Homo sapiens: one gene and its partners. The protein of the gene in region 1 purifies or fractionates together with the protein of each later gene. This does not show direct contact. Each region holds a gene or a part of one and is shown in the gene's direction. Other genes may lie near its edges. The genes, in order: MFSD2B, ATP11C and TNFRSF10B.

Region 1 (3,751 bases):
TGATGAAGAGTTGCTTCTGGGTTTTTTGTGTTTGGTTGGTTTTGTTTTTGTTTTTGTTTTTGAGACAGAGTCTCCCTCTGTCACCCAGGCTGGAATGCAGTGGCACGATCTTGGCTCACTGCAATCTCCGCCTCCCGGGTTCAAGCGATTCTCCTGCCTCAGCCTGCCGAGTAGCTGGGATTACAGGCATGAGCCACCGTGCCTGTCCCTTGCTCCTGTTTTTTCATAAGTTTTACATTCTAGGTCTATGATGCATTTTTAGTTAATGTGTACCCCTGTTACTGGTGGAAGGTATCTGAGTCACGTGGCACCAAAATATGTCAGCAGGAGTGAATCTATATGGGTCTGCAGCAACCTCAGTTCCTGCCTCCTCAGAAGAAAGAATTCCACTGAGGGGCATAAGGCAGAAGGAGAGACTGAGGCAAGTTTTAGAGCAGGAATAAAAGTTTATTAAAAAGCTCTACAGCAGAAATGGAAGGAAGGAAAGTACACTTGGAAGAGGGCCAAGCGGGTGACCTGAAAAAGAAGCGCACAGTTTGACCTTTTGACCTGGGGTCTTATGCATTGGCATACTTCTGGGGTCTTGCATCCCTTCTCCCCTGATTCTTCCCTTGGGAGGCCTGCCTGCATGGGCAGTGGTCTGCCAGCACTTGGGAGGGGAGTGTGCACACTGTGTATACTGGAGTTGTACCCATGCTCACTGGAGGCGTTCTTCCCTTACCAGTCCGGTGTCCTTCGAGGGTCACATGTCAGTTAAACTCCGCAATTTGTGTAAGCCCACTTGCCCAGCTCCTGAGATCTTACCGAGAAGCTGATCACCAGTTTCAGGTTTTCTCTATCTATTGGGAGACTGCCTTTCCCTGGCCCCGCTGGATCAATGATCATTTTAGAGGGAGCATAACAACCGCCTGACTGTCGCCTGATGGTTGCCTGACGTACCTGGTTGGAAGCGTGGCCCTCTCCTGCCCTTTTCGAGGCTGACTAGCTACCTGCTGTCACCCCCCTTCCCTTTTAAGGACTTTTCTGGAATGTTGGCCTGTGCCACCTGCTTTTATTCGCTGGCCAGAACTTAGTTACTGGCCATCCCCGTGGTCTGTATAGGAGACTCGACAATGTATATTTCAGGCGTTGGGCATCATGTGTAGCCGGCGGAATGCCTGTTCAGCCATGGTCCAGCCTGAACGAGCGGGCCTCTTGCTTCATTTTGCAGGGGAGCTGCTGCTTGCCCGCGGTCACCCCAGCGGTCTGGCGGAGCCCTTAGCGCGCAGGGCCGCCGTCTGCGGGCGCTCACGCCCCCGGGGATCCACCCCAAGGAGAACGGTCCTGAGGGCCTGCCGGGCCTTTCCCCCCGCGGATTTTGGTTCTTCGCTGTTTCCCTTTGGGGTGCCCTTCGCGGTTTCTGCGTTTCCCCCGCGTTGCCAGCAGCCACTCGCGCCGCGCCCCTAGCCCAGAACCGCCCCTCCCAAGGGCGATAACCCCGAGGGCAACGGCCGCGGGCGGCGCTGCGGTGGCAATGGCGGCGCCCCCTGCACCAGCCGCCAAGGGGTCCCCGCAGCCGGAGCCGCACGCCCCAGAGCCCGGCCCGGGGAGCGCCAAGCGAGGGCGAGAGGTGAGCGGGGCGGCGGGGACCGGGAAGGGGCTGCGTCCTCGGGGAGCTCCAGGGCGTCGCCTCGCAGCCCCTTTTCCAGCTGGGGGCAGCCCGGAGGGGCTCGGCCCAAACCTGCCAGCTCAGGGGCTGCCCTCGCGGGGTTACACGGCTGGGAGCGGGGAGGCTGGTAGGTGCCGGCGCCGGAAAGAGACTAGGACGGGAAGCCTAGCCCTAGCCAAGGAAGTAACTTGGGGATGCGTGGTCATTGCTGTCCTGATTCCCGGCTTAGGGGTCTTGTCCGTGCCACCGCAGGTCCTCCCGGGGTCCCCGAGCTCTGGGCAGGCAGGGCTTTCTGAAGCGCCTGGGGAGGCTGCGTCCTTCCCGACCTCAGGCAGCTGCTGTGGCCTCGGCCTCCCTCCCAGACCCTGGCCTCGCCCAGGCACCAGGCTCCCCTTGGAGGCAGCCTCAGGGAAGGTCCTGGCCATGGGCTCCGACAAGAAGGGAGGAGGGCAGGTGGGAGCGGCGGGGTCTTCGGGGCCCCTTGTCCCTTGCCCGATGCCGCCGGGCCGTGCTGGCCAGTGGGGCTGTGCTGGACGGAGCAAGGGGCCTGGGGCTTCCTGGGCCTCACTGAACGCGCCTGCTCCCTGCTCGTGCCCAGGGCATTCTGTGGCCTCCCCTGACCACCTCAGCCCCCAGCCTGTTCAGGGCTTCCTACGAGGCACCTGGGAGCACAGGATTGCATCCCACAAGAAAGTGAGGTGAGATGAAGGGGCTCTCCGGGGACTCTCACTTCCCAGGGAAACTTAGAAATTCAGGGTGAGATTAACAGCAAGAGGGAAACACTCGCATTGCTGATGAAGTTCCGGCGTGGAATCCTCTTACGACTCTCCGAGGGGTGGCAGCCCCGGTCACTCCAAGGAGACCGAGGTGCCCTGCCCTGGGTCACGCAGCTAGAGATAGCAGGGCTGCGCCCCTCGCCCGGAGCCGCCCCTCCCAAGGGGCTTCTCCTTGTACAGCTCACTGTACAGCTGTACCGGGCTTTTATGACTTTCGGTAAAACTGTCATCCTCAAGACGGCAAGATGGGATCATATCCCTGGCTTCACTTGGAAGTTCTTTCTAAAGTTCTAAAAACTTGCTAGGCCTGTTTTGGGGGATACAAGAGTCCCCATTAGGGGGAGAGGGGGACTGTCACGTTGAATTCTGCCTGTTCTTAAAGTTTTCTGGAAGCTGAAATGATGTTCACACAAATGTCAGAAAAGAATCATCCTGCCCCCAGTGTGGTTTTCCCCTGTGGGTAGGAAGAGTGTGCAAAGTGTGATAAACCCTTATCTGGGGAGACCTTCCCTTCACAAGAGCCTGCTGGGGTGTCCTGCAAGATGTGGAAATGGGTGAAGCCATGTCATCTCCACTCCCTCCAGCCCCCAGCAAACGATGAGAAAAGAGCCCAGCTTCTTCCAAAGAAACAGCACTTTACACAGGGTCTTCATGGCCATTTATTGCTTCAACGGATATATACTAAGCACCTACTGTATACCAAGCTTTGTTCTAGGTACTGGAAACACCATGATAAATAAAAGGTGGAGTTCATGCTCTCAGAGAGCTTACATTCCTGTAGGGAGAGGCAGGAACTAAATGAAAATATAGCAGGCGGTAAGTACAACTGAGAGAGGTGAGAGGTTAGGGAATGCCTCTTGGAGGAGGTGACATTTAAGCTGGTGACATCAAACCAGAATGACAAGGAGTCACCTTCCAGGCAGAGGAATGGGAAGGGCAAAGGCCCTGAGGCAGCAACAGACTTGATGATTTTGAGGAATAGGAAGGAGCCCGGCGTGGCTGAAGGAGAGCTATTTGAGGTGAGGTGGGTAGGGGGCCGACTGGGTGGACTCCTTAGCCATGATCAGGACTTGGAGTTTTATTCAAACTGCAATGGTATTGACTGAATACCATGGATCTGGAAACAAACAAACAAACAAACAAAACACACACACACACACACACACACACACAAAAACAGACAAAAAAACCCTGCAATAGCAAGCCATTGGAGAGTTTTAATCAGAGAGGAGATGGGATCTGATTATTTATTTATTTATTTATGACTGAGTCTCTGTCACCCAGGCTGGAGTGCAGTGGTGTGATATTTGCTCACTGCAACCTCTGC
Region 2 (3,651 bases), on another chromosome or scaffold:
TGAGGTTATAGTGAGCTATAATGGCTACTGCATTCCAGCCTGAGTGACAGAGTGAGACCCTATCTTAAAAAAGGTTAACTTAAATGAGAAGCGTTCTTAGTTTGATAAAATAGTCACTTTTTTTTTTTTTTCCTGAGACAGAGTCTCACTCTATCACCCAGGTTGGAGTATAGTGATGTGATCTCAGCTCACTGCAACCTTTGTCTCCTGGATTCAAGCAATTCTTGTGCCTCAGCCTCCCAAGTAGCTGGGATTTCAGGTGTGTGCCACCACACCCAGCTAATTTTTGTATTTCTAGTAGAGACGGGGTTTCACCATGTTGGCCAGGCTGGTCTTGAACTCCTGAGCTCAAGCAATCCTCCTGCCTCAGCCTCCCAAAGTGCTGGGACTACAGGCATAAGCCACCGTGCCTGGCCAATAGTCACATTTTTTTCTATTCATCTTTTACATTTGAGTAGATCTACCTTAGACATGTGATAGCATTTTGGTGTCTTTAAAAATACTCATTTATTCCTCATTTCTTTGGTAATATTGTCTCTGTAATTCCCTGACATTTGACAAGAAGTCTTAGAAGGGGTGATTTCCTATGGATATGAAAATAGCTTTGCGTTACAGCAAACTAAAAATTAGTCACACTGAAGAAACTAACAATATATGTTTGTGTCCTTGTTTTAGGTGGATTATGTATTTACAGATAAGACTGGAACACTCACTGAAAACAGCATGGAATTCATTGAATGCTGCATAGATGGCCACAAATATAAAGGTGTAACTCAAGAGGTTGATGGATTATCTCAAACTGATGGAACTTTAACATATTTTGACAAAGTAGATAAGGTGCATTTGCATTATTGTTTTATATAAGAAACCAATCTGTGTATGCATGTTAACATTCCATAGTAGAAAATAATTTTTAGGTGGACACATGACATAGACTTTTGTGTTTTTGTTTTTTTTTTTTGAGATGGAGTCTCACTCTGTTGCCCAGGCTGGAGTACGGTGGCATGATCTCAGCTCACTGCAACCTCCGCTTCCCAGGTTCAAGCGATTCTCCTGCCTCAGCCTCCCGAGTAGCTGGGATTACAGGCGCCTGCCACCATGCCTGGCTAATTTTTTTGTATTTTTAGTAGAAACGGAGTTTCACCATGTTGGTCAGGCTGGTCTCAAACTCCTGACCTCAGGTAATCCACCACCCTCCGTCCCCCAAAGTGCTGGGATTACAGGCATGAGCCACTGTGCCCAGTGACTTTAGAATAACTATTGTTGGATTCACCTTTCTTGTTTTACTGACACTTCTGAAATTTGTAAATGAGTAGAATTTACAAGTAAAGAGAATTGTGGGAAATGACATTTGGGTAAAAGCTTGCTTGTCTGTATGATCATAATTTTTTGTGCTTTGTCTTTTAAAATGTAAGCTCCTCCAAGAATGATGTCTGTTCAAATGATTAAAGTCTCAGGAGTGTCTAGGCATTAAATTAACCAGAGTCTCCCTACACTTGAGCTATTGCTAGATTGTGAATTAGATACTGAATGAAGTTTTTTAGGCCATGAAGAAGTCACTGCTTTGGCTTAGGTGGTGCCACAATAACCTTAATGAGTTAACACAGCCTATAGGGTATGCTAGCTGAGAACCAGGAACTCTTATTAGGTACTAGGAGAATATATAGCAGATTTGAGTGTTAAGAATTTATACGTATCTGCTACTAAGTTTGTTAGAAGTTACAACATTCTCTCACATTAATATATTTTCTCCGTTCACTGCCTAGTTACCGGGTGATCAAATTAAAAATAATAATCATTATTTTGTTGCTGTTCCACAGAATCGAGAAGAGCTGTTTCTACGTGCCTTGTGTTTATGTCATACTGTAGAAATCAAAACAAACGATGCTGTTGATGGAGCTACAGAATCAGCTGAATTAACCTATATCTCCTCTTCACCAGATGAAATAGCTTTGGTGAAAGGAGCTAAAAGGTAAAGTATACTTTCTTATACTTCTCCTAAGAAAGTGAAATCACAGGAGGACAGAAGTTATTTGTTTTTTTCCGTTTGCTTCAGTGACCTTAGCACATACATCTCCTATTATTTAATAAAAAACACAACTGCTTTAGCCAAAAATTTGTGGAAAATTCCCACACCTAACCAGTTAAGACTAAAAAGAAAATAGTTACAGGTAGGTATTACTTGCCTTACTATTTATGCATGCCAGCCAGAAGTCTGAATGTTCATACTATGTTTTGCAAATAACATAACAGTGGCCACTTTTTGTACAACACATGTTATTTCTGAGGTGCTCCCAGCAATTTTGACATCATTTGAGAACCGAAAGTCCAGTTTTACCCATGAGGTTCAAGATAATTAAGTGGCTCAAAGGTCACCCAGTGTGTTAGCCGTAGAATCAGAAACCCAAATTGTCTCTCCCTTGGTTACAATAATTGTGGCTGGGCATTGACTTTCTCTGTTATCAACTTATCCAGGAAAAGAAAGTACAGTTATATGTTGAGATCATATGAAAGAGAAGAAAAGCATAAACAAGCATGAGTTACCCCATTGAAAGTAATCATTCTAGACCAGGTGCGGTGGCTCACGCCTGTAATCCCAGCACTTTGGGAGGCCAAGGCGGGTGGATCACCTGAGGTCAGGAGTTCAAGACCAGCCTGGCCAACATGGTGAAACTCTGTCTCTACTAAAAATACAAAAATCAGCCGGGTGTGGTGACACACACCTGTAATCTCAGCTACTCAGGAGGTTGAGGCAGGAGAATCGCTTGAAACTGGGAGGTGAAGGTTGCAGTGAGCCGAGATCGCGCCACTGCACTCCAGCCTGGGCAACAGAGCGAGACTCTGTCTCAAAAAAAATAATAATAAAAAAATTAATCATTCTTTAGAGATACACAAGGTCTTTTTTATTGTTTTTGATAGGTACGGGTTCACATTTTTAGGAAATCGAAATGGATATATGAGAGTAGAGAACCAAAGAAAAGAAATAGAAGAGTAAGTAGCTCTGTGTTTGATGTTTGTCATTTCTTAACCCCATAGTCAAATTTAAGTGGATTCAGGCAGGGCAGCAAAGGAAATGATGCCACTAAAAATACAGGACCCTGCTCTCCCAGTTCAGAGTTTTATGTAAATATAGTTGGGGTAGAAGCCATGTTACATAGAATTGCAGAAACTGGAGTTTGAGGTGGAAATTCCAATCTGGTTCACATCTGGGTCCAGTAGCCAGAATGAGAGTTTGCCTGGAATGTTTCTCAAATTTAGATGCCATTTCAGGTCTCTAACACATGCTACAGGAAAAATCAGTGAATATATGTGAAACCTTCTGCTATCTAGTGTCCAAGCAATCACTCTGGGATTGCAAGCCCAGGCAATAAAGGCAGCTTTGCTGTAAACCAGAAGCCTTGTTTGGTTCGGAATGTTCAGGTGTGAGCCTCGGGGCAAGTACTCTGATGCTCCAGTGTCTTCACATTTCCTCTTTTGCCACAAAGACCCTAATGAACAAAGCCACCTTATCTTAATGGTGGATTTTAATTAGGCTCTGTGATTAATTTGAATTTCCTCATCTGAACTTGAAATATAATTATGTTATCTGACTTTCATTCTGGCCCCTAGGATCTCCTGAGACCCATCTCAGAAACCTGTAATATGTTTACA
Region 3 (3,651 bases), on another chromosome or scaffold:
AGGCACTTGCAACCACACCTGGCTAATTTTTGTATTTTTAGTAGAGACGGGGTTTCACCATGTTGCCCAGGCTGGTCTCAAACTCCTGCGCTCAAGGAATCCTCCCACCTTGTCCTCCCAAAGTATTGGGATTACAGGCCTGAGCCACCGTGCGCAACCTATGATTTTGGTGGTGGTGTTTTTTGTTTTTCTGTTTTTTAAATATTCTTGAGTATATTTGTAAGCTTTAGATGACCTGTTTTAAGTTATTTAATCTATCAACACCATTATATCTGTTATTACGGCCACTGTTTCTGTTGATTACATTTTTTTTCCTGCCCATAGGGACTTTTTTTTTCATGCATAGTAATTTCTTATTGCTTGACATTGTGAATTTTGCTTTCTTGGGTACCGAACATCACTGTGTTCTTTCAAAGTCTATTGGGCATTATTCTGGTCACAGAAAACTGAGGATCAGTTTGCTCCTCTGATACTAGCTTTTATCTACATATAACTATATACCTTGTGTTCAGTTGCCTTATTCAGGGGCTCATTTAGTTAACTACTAAAGTTATAGTGGTTGACTTCTGATGGTAACTCGCCAGCACCCTGGCATGCGTTCTGTCCACTGTGGGAAGGGGAACATGCAGATCTCCCAGCCCTGAGTGGTCCACAATCTAGTCTCTCCTTCCCTGGGTGGCTTCTTCTCAGGCACCTAGAGTCAGTCTCAGCAGACACTGGACATGTCTTCTGCAAGGATCCAGAGTCCTCCAGGCAGCTGCTTCTCCCAGTCTCTGCCCTGCACTTGGCCTCTGGGAGTTCCTGCCTGTGGTTCTCAACAGAGACTACAGAGCTCTACAGGGTCCTCTGCCCCTGCTGTAGCTGGAGGCTGTCCTTACGCAGTGAGCTGAGGCCACAGCTAGTCTCACTGCATGTGCTTGGCGGCGGGGACAGGAGTGATTCATTCATCAGGTAGAGGAGGAACCCTTTACTCTGGGAAAATCTGTGCCTGGGTTGGGGAAGGACAAATGAGCCCTGTGTGAATACTGACTACTCCCTGGAGCCCACAGTCTGGTGGAGCAGGTGACAGCAGGGACCTAAATAACTATCAGGAAGCATGAGGTCCCACCACTGTCACCTCCCCCACCTCCAGAGTGGCTGTGCTGGCTCCAGAGATGTCATCCCTCCATATTTGACTGACAGAGGGAGGCTGTGCAGTCCCAAGGCTCCAGGTCATGGTAGTTTGGCCAGGATAATATGGTTTGCTTAAAATCAACATTGAGGGTAATGATCGTACTAATCAGAGCATGTGTTTAAAGTTCTGTGTTTTAAGCACTTTCCATACATATTAACACTTTCAGTTCACACAACAACCTATGCAGGAACTGTGATTATCCTGGGCAGTTTTAAGGATGTGGGTGACTCAGAGAGGAAAGAAGAGGTTACTCGGGTTAATTTTTGACGAGAAATATTAGCAGGTTTTATGCTCAAACTTGGTGTAAAGCAAGGAGCCTGAATCACAGGTGGGTGAGTCACAAGACAGGGAAACCCCGCCAATGGCTCATGTCCGGGAGGAGGCAGGGTCCCTAGAATTCAATGGGACAAGAACTGAAATAAGCCAAACCCCTGACCTCCCTTCTTCTTGTTTTCCTTCTCTCTCTTAACCATGCCCATGGACACCCCCATGAGCCCATTTCTGTGGCCCAACACAGCTGTGCATCTCTGGCCACACGCCCATTCTCCCTCAATCAGAGAGGCCCACGGACGGCACAGCCTCGTCCTGCACAGCAGAAAGAGTGAATGGTGATGAATGGATCTATATTATTTCAACTCTCCTACATTTTGTAATCATATTACAATATTAATTCAGCAGTACCTCTCTTGTTTTTACTCCCCTCCCCCATTACACTGGATTCCTGTCTGTCTGGGATTCTGTCTGTGTGCACTCTTTCCTCTATGTCCACTACTGTCCCTGCCACCGATGGCATTTGTCACCTCTGCCTGGGCAGCCCCTCCAGACTCTTTGCAAGTTCATGGACTTTGGGGTTAATGATGGCTGTGCCTCAGCTCCTGTGAATGGAAACTGTGCTAAGGAAAGGAAGGGCCGTGCCATGTTCCCGATACTCCACGGCTCCTTGCATATGCGGTCGCCAGGCGCCTACATGCCTTCCATGAATGAATGAATGAGTAACGTGGATTCTAGGAAGCTGCACTAACCCAGACGTTGTGTCCTCAGCCTGCTCATAGAGTGTGTTAAACGTGAGAGGTGGGGAGTGTGGCAGGCAGGCTGAGGACAGAACAGAGGATCTGAATAGAGTACGGAGGATCACCCAAGTCCAGAGTCACCAAGGCCATTGTCAAGTTTTCCCCGGGGACATCCCTCATCAGATCCACCCATTAAAGATCATTGTTCACCCAGTGGAGAGTGGACTAGGTGGGTGCACTCAGGTGTGGCCTGGACAGCATTCGGGATGGGTCCTAGTGGTTAGGGTGAGGGTCAGGTTGCATTATCGTGAAGGAGGCAAGTGGCAGCTGAGGCAGATCTGAGGGAAATGATGATAACGCAGGCCGGTGATGCAATGGGTTTGGTAAGAAGAGGAAAGAGGTTTGTGGTGGATTCTAGTGTTTCTAATCTGAGACTTGGGTGAGGTCATTACCAAATAAGAAAGAGTAAATGGGCATAAATGGCTTTAAGAATTAGGAACCTGAATGTGCTATTGGAGACAGTATGGGCACGTCATTGCTCATAGACCTGCAGTACACAAAATGCTAAAAGATTTCAATCTGAATAGAGATGAAATGAAATGGAAACATGGATTTTTTTTTTTTTTTTTGAGACAGTTTCACTGTTGCTGCCCAGGCTGGAGTGCAATGGCGCAATCTCGGCTCACTGCAACCTCTGCCTCCTGGGTTCAAGCGATTCTCCTGCCTCAGCCTCCTGAACAGCTGGGATTACAGGCGCTTGCCACCACACCCAGCTAATTTTTGTATTTTTAGTAGAGACCGGGTTTCACCATGTTGGCCAGGCCAGTCTCAAACTACTGACCTCAGGAGATCCACCGCCTTGGCCTCCCAAAGTGCTGGGATTACAGGCATGAGCCACCTTGCCTGGCTGGGAACATGGATCTTAAGGAAAGAAGGAAGATCATCAGGAATAGAAATATGAATGCACATATAAAGAATGATTATTTCCTCTTAATTTCTTGAAAATATTCACTATCAAGTAATATAACACTTTGTAGGGTTTGTAACATATGAACATGCCTGAGACAACTATAGCAGAAAGAATGAGTAGTGGAGATGAATCAATCTGTATTATTTCAAGTCTCCTACATTTTATAATATTACCATATTAATTCTGCCATACAACTCAGTAATGAAAAGGAATGGAGTACTGATGCATATGAAAATATGACCGAATTTCAAAATAATTATGCTGAGTTAAAGAAACCAGACAGAAAAGCATATATAGTATCTGATTCCATCTATGATATTTATAGCCAGAAATGGTTTAATTAAAAAAGAAGAAGGATCTTAAATCAACGAGCTAAGTTTACAAATGTAGGAATTAGAAAAAGAATGAACCAAACCTAGAGTTAGCATTATAAAGGAAATAATTATTAGAAGAGAAATAAATAAAACAGAGAATAGAAAAACAGTAGAGGCCGGATG

Evidence for each region.
Region 2: the proteins of MFSD2B (region 1) and ATP11C purify together in Homo sapiens (affinity purification with mass spectrometry; one large-scale study listed by BioGRID and IntAct). This does not show direct contact.
Region 3: the proteins of MFSD2B (region 1) and TNFRSF10B purify together in Homo sapiens (affinity purification with mass spectrometry; one large-scale study listed by BioGRID and IntAct). This does not show direct contact.

Annotation. Positions count from the first base shown.
Region 1 is NC_000002.12:24,008,584-24,012,334, forward strand, and holds the start of MFSD2B (sphingosine-1-phosphate transporter MFSD2B), read left to right. Parts: upstream 1-1,501; 5' UTR 1,502-1,513; coding exon 1,514-1,609; intron 1,610-3,751.
Region 2 is NC_000023.11:139,786,513-139,790,163, reverse strand, and holds part of ATP11C (phospholipid-transporting ATPase IG), read left to right. Parts: intron 1-675; coding exon 676-837; intron 838-1,820; coding exon 1,821-1,972; intron 1,973-2,919; coding exon 2,920-2,991; intron 2,992-3,651. UniProt on the Homo sapiens protein: Catalytic component of a P4-ATPase flippase complex which catalyzes the hydrolysis of ATP coupled to the transport of aminophospholipids, phosphatidylserines (PS) and phosphatidylethanolamines (PE), from the outer to the inner leaflet of the plasma membrane.
Region 3 is NC_000008.11:23,062,509-23,066,159, reverse strand, and holds part of TNFRSF10B (tumor necrosis factor receptor superfamily member 10B isoform 1 precursor), read left to right. Parts: intron 1-3,651. UniProt on the Homo sapiens protein: Receptor for the cytotoxic ligand TNFSF10/TRAIL. The adapter molecule FADD recruits caspase-8 to the activated receptor.